Regions from separate parts of the Homo sapiens genome. Here region 2 is linked to region 1. The links come from fine-mapping of genetic effects on gene expression. Tissue or cell type: whole blood. Region 1 holds a variant in brackets; the other region holds the start of a gene. All regions are shown on one strand. Distances are from middle to middle.

What was found. PIP is the estimated chance that this variant, and not a neighbour inherited with it, causes the effect.
Region 2: PRKCB starts here. The variant in region 1 is fine-mapped to the expression of PRKCB in whole blood (INTERVAL, PIP above 0.99).

Annotation. Positions count from the first base shown.
Region 1 is chr16:24,032,364-24,035,120 of GRCh38, reverse strand. All of the region lies in intron 4 of PRKCB (protein kinase C beta), which reads right to left. Among named protein-coding and RNA genes, the nearest start is that of MIR1273H, 170 kb to the left of the region's middle. The variant T/C (reference allele first, on the strand shown) is at 1,088.
Region 2 is chr16:23,834,790-23,837,394 of GRCh38, reverse strand. PRKCB (protein kinase C beta) reads right to left here and starts at 1,412. Exons shown (of 17, transcript NM_002738.7): 1 at 1,047-1,412; 2 at 1-20. The coding sequence starts at 1,219. RefSeq lists enhancers at 307-446, 710-1,255, 1,256-1,803 and silencers at 757-836, 1,167-1,246, 1,277-1,916.

The DNA.
Region 1 (2,757 bases):
CCAACTTCAATGCTCACAGGCTGGCTGGTCACATGAGTGAGGAAAGCTAAGGGGGTGGCAGGGACTTGGCCAAGCCAAGTGGGAAACAGAGCAAAAACATTCCCCATTTCTCAACGTATGCAGGAATCTCGATGTGTACGTGACAGCTCTGATTTTTAAATATTAACAGCTAATAGGTTGGGCTCCCTGGAAAGAGTCTGAGACGGGGAGTTTTGAGCACAAGGTTTTTGGGGAGTGCTCTTGTGGGGAGAAGTTCGTTTGCCACGTGGATGCAATCAAAGCTGATGTTAGGGGGAGCCCAGAGCTGAGATGACCCTTCAGAGTTGTTCCAAACTGAGACAAGAGGGCTGGGCACCACAATCATCTGGTCTCCCTGGAAGAGGCATTATCTTGGGCAATTATGCAGGATGGGGCACTGCTGTGAACCACAGCTAGGGGATGGGGTGGGACCATGAAGAGGGGGTCTGGGCTGGCCATAGTGTCCACCATAATTAATTACAAGGAAAAAGATTTAGAGCCAGGGCAGGGTGGATAAAATGTGCCTATACACTGAATTTGGCCTTCGGCCATCTCTCATGTTATAGGATATCCACTCCCTCTGCGCACTCCTCCGTAGAGTATCTGTGTCTATTTCAATGTGGTGGGTGATTTCTTCTAGGTCTTGAGCAATAATGCCCCACTCCAGGAAGGTGTGCCAGGCACCCAGGATTCTCCAGGGGGACGCTAGTTCCAGTTGGAGAAGCCAGAAGGAGAGGCCAAGTCACCCCATGGGCCCCTATTTCAAGGGATCTGGGGGCAAGGGACCCTTCTCAGACCACCCAAGTCCCAGGAGGCAGCAGGCCTATTACAAAAACTAGAAATGAGTTGTGGGGAGGGAAGGGAGAGCCCTCTGGGACCTGAGCACCAGCCTGAGCTCCCACCCACCACTGTCTCTGAGGCAGGGACATTGTCCCTATATTAGGGCCCCATGTGTGGTAAGAGGAGCTGGTGTCCTGCAGGCAGAAGGCTCCAACCTCACTGTCCCCCTGTGGCTCTTGCCATGTTTCTGTGTCTGTCTCTCTGTTTCCACGTTGCTGCATGTCTCTTG[T/C]CTCTGCTGTCCCACTTCTGCACGTGGCTCACTGCCTTGGCCGTGTCTGTGAATCGGTCTGTTCCACTCTCTGCACTTGTCTCTGGCCTCTTTGTCTCTCCCTTTCTCCAACTGTGTCTCTCTGCCTCTCTCCTCCGTGTCTCTCTGTGGCTCTCCATGTGTGCTTCTGTCTCTGTCTCTGGTCTTTCCATCTCTATACCTCTGCATGAGCCTGTGTAATGGCGTCTCTCTCTGTGTCCATGCCAATCATTTTATCTTTTCTTCTTCTTCTTCTTTGAGAGTCTCACTCTGTCACCCAGGCTGGAGTGCAGTAGTGTGATCTCAGCTCACTGCAACCTCTGCTTCCTGGGTTCAAGTGATTTTCCTGCCTCAGCCTCCCAAGTAGCTGGGATTACAAGTACCCACCACCTTGACTGGCTAATTTTTGTATTTTTAGTAGAGATTGGGTTTTGCCACGTTGGCCAAGCTGGTCTCAAACTCCTGACCTTAGGTGATCCACCCGCCTCAGCCTCCCAAAGTGTTGGGATTACAGGAGTGAACCACTGCACCTGGCTTATCTGTTGGTCTGTGTGTCTGCCTGTCCCTCCTTTTGCCTGAGTCTCTCTCTAGCTGAGTCTCTCTGTAGCTTCCACGCCCCACATTCCTCCCTGTGTTAGGGTTGCATGTGTCCATCTTTCCCCTGCATCTGTGTCTGTCTATGCATGTGTGTTTCTTGCTGTCTGTCTTGCTCCCTACCACCCTTATTCACCCTCACAGTCCTCTCTGTCACTCTCTGCCCTATGACTTTCTCCCTCTGTCCTCTGGGCCTCAGGACCCTTGGGAGAGCAGTACCACTAGCCTCATGACACCCAGCCTGCTGCAGACCAACAGGTCTGTGGGAGCCACCAGCACCTCCAGTGTCCCTGTAGCTTTGTGGCCATAGCTCTCAAAGCCTGTCTGCTCCCCTGCCCCACAGGCCATCCGGGCCTTGGCCTCATAAAGAGGAGTCCTACCCCACCTGCCTTTCCTACCACATCCTGGCCAGAGAATGATGCTCTTTCCTCCTCCAGCACAAACCTGTGGGTGCTGCAGGGCCACAGGTCTTCTCCATGCAAAGAATGCATCAGCCCCACATCTCAATGCTGAAAACAGTGGTGGTGCATGGCTGCAGAAATGCCCATGATTTGTTCATGCCTCTGGGTGTCAACAGCCATGGACTGCCCCTTCCCACACTGTGACTGTGCATCTCACATGCCACTTGCTTTGACCAGTGGATCAGGAGCAAAAGACACAAGTAGAGACTTGAAGTGTGGCTGCCAATGGGACTTGCCCTCCTAAGAAACTCAGGACCCTGTGACCTCCGTGCATGCACGGAGGCTAGGTAGCCTAGCCCACTGAGGAGGAAAGACACGTGGCCTGGTCATCACCATCACCCAGATGACAGCCAGCCATCCTCCAGGACATGTGGGTGAGGCCACCATGGCCCAGACAGCTCCCAGCCCACCTCCATCTGCTAATCCACCATGAACCATGAGTTCATGCTTTATGAACATGCGTGACATCAGCTGAGGCCAGCCCAGATTCAAAGAACTGCCTTGCAGAGTCATGAGCTAAAAAAATGTTTATTGTCTTCAGTCACAGTGTTTTGGGGTGGGAGGATCATTATGCAGCAACAGATAACTGGTACACCA
Region 2 (2,605 bases), 200 kb after region 1:
ATCCCTGCTTCCCGAAGCCCCTGCAAAAGCAGAAGGAGGTGTATGTCAGGCAGCCCGGGGGGCCCAGCCTCCAGCTAGTTACCCACAGAGTCACCCGCCTTCCTCCCTGCCTCTGTACCCCAGGTGCAAACTCCCAGCCACAGGCGGGTGCCCAAGAGTCTTCCGCCTTTGTGGGGGTAGGTGGGAGCTCGGCTGTAACCCCCATCTGCCTTCACTCCTGCAGAAGAGAGGAGGCTGCGACCACCAGGTGGCGGGATAGTGGGGAGCGTTTCCGTCGGGGTAGGGGCTGAAGGCAGGCGACAGATGTACCCATAGATGCCCCGAGCACCCTCGGGAAAAGAGAAGAGATAAAGACGCATTCAGAGGGAGGGCGAGAGTGACCCCGCGGCGGTGGTGTCCTCTGGGAGGGGGACTGGGAAGGAGGAAAGGATGCCCCACTACTGGAGGGACTGGGGAAGAAAGGGGCCCGCAGTGATGTGACCGAGGAGTGGAAAGGGGAACCCAGGCCCTCGGGGAGGGGCAATGGGAGATAACACAGGGCGCTGCCCGGAGGCACAGAGGAGTGAGAAAGGATGTCCCATGCCCGCAGGGAGATAGAGAAGGACACCCAGGGCGCCGCCCCCCCCGGAAACAAGGGGTGGGGGGCGAGGGCTCCTCGCGCCCGGAAGCAGGCGGAGAGATAGGGAACCCCGGGTCGGAGAGCACCCGAGGCGCTGCCCTCCAGGGCAGGCACAGACCCCGCGCGCTCCTAGTCAGGTGGAGCAAAGGCTCCCGCGACGCCGCCCCTGGGCGCTCTAGAGGCGCCTGAGAGCAGGAGAGGGCAGGAGGCGCCCCGCGGCGGCCCGTCTGGGACCAGGGTGGGGACAGGGCAACGGCAGGACTGTCCATCCGGGAGTCCCGGGCAGCAGGGTCCGGAGCCGGGAGTCCGGAGACGCGGGGTCCCAGGGTGCGGAGGGCGCGGAGGGCGCAGAGGGCGCGGAGAGGGGGTCCCTGGCGCGGCGCTGCCCTCGGGGGCCCGGGAAGGTGCCCTGCGCGCGCGCGCTCACCAGATGAAGTCGGTGCAGTGGCTGCAGAAGGTGGGCTGCTTGAAGAAGCGGGCGGTGAATTTGTGGTTCTTGACCTCATGCACGTTCTTCTGCCGGAGGGCGCCTTTGCGGGCGAAGCGCACGGTGCTCTCCTCGCCCTCGCTCGGCGGCGGCCCCGCAGCCGGGTCAGCCATCTTGCGCGCGGGGAGCCGGAGCCCGAGAGGTGCCGGCCCCGGGGCCGCGGGACCGCGGGCTGCGGGCCGGGGAGGCGCGGGAGGCGGCGGCCGCTGCTGCACCCGGGGCCGCGGGCGCTTCCCCTGCGCCGGCTCTGGCGGCCGCGGCGCGCGGAGCCGGGGCTGTCACTCGCCCAGCTGCTGCCGCTCGTCCAGCTGCGCTTGGCACCGCTGGCCCCAGCTGCGGGGGAGGGAGGCGGAGCCCCGGGCCAGCCCCGCCCTCCTCATTTGCATCGCGCCCAGGCCCCGCCCAGCGCTGCCAGCTGCTTTACATATCGGCGCCCGGGCTACCGCGGGCCTCGCGGCTAAGCGTGCACAGCCGCAGCTCTGCAGCGCCGGGACCGCAGCCCGGGGTCGTCGGACCCGAGCCTCGCCCCCCACCCCACCCCGTCCTCGGCCCCCGGGGCTGCGTTCAGGAGATGTGCCCAGGGGAGGAGCGAGAGTGGAAAGACCTACGGGGCGAAGGGGAGCGGGTGGAAGGGGTGGGGCGCAGCGAATTCCACCCCGGCCTCTGCGGAGACTGGTACCCATCCACCCCCATCCATCCCATTGGTCATTCTGCACGCGTCTCCTGGAGGGATGGGCTCCCGCTGTCACTCATTCGGAAAGGCTTGTGGCCGCACACACTTACACACACATACACACACACGTTCTGCAGAGGTAGGGGAGGAGCGATCTTTATTTTATATGTCTCTAACTCCACCACAGAGAAGATTCTTGGCTTTGCTTGCCTCCTGCACGTTTGGAAGAGAACTCCCTACCTTCTGTCCATCCCCTCTGCAAAACGACTCCGTTTCCCCAACTGTAACATAGGGCTAATAGTGTGGGGAGGAAGGATTTCAGTAGATCAATATTTTTCCAAATTTCATTCATTTCTGACTCGTCTTCACAAATTCTGGTCGTATTTGTGCACCCTCTGGGGGAAAAAAAGCCTATCTCTTTTGGTCTGAGTTTGAACAGCAAGAGGTATCTACATTATTAAAATATCTCCAGGTGCCGTCATCTGTCCTAAGCATCTTCGACTGAAGTCATCTTTTATTTGTTAAGAGAGGAAATTAATAAATGCTAGAGGGGTGTTAAAGACATTACTATCCAACCAGGACTCTCTCCTTGATGTGATCTGAAGGTAACTGAAAGGGTAATAATTGTCTACAATGTGTAATTCAATGTTATTTAGCGCCCTGTTCATGCACAAGGCCTAAAGATACCCACTGCCACCATGTCCCCCACTCTGGGAACGCAGAGCTTCATTAGGCTGTGAGCTCCTTCACCAGACCTAGGCTCTGTGAGAGCAGGGGGGCTGTTCACCACCATGTCGCCCAGCACCAAGCTCAGTGCCTGACACCT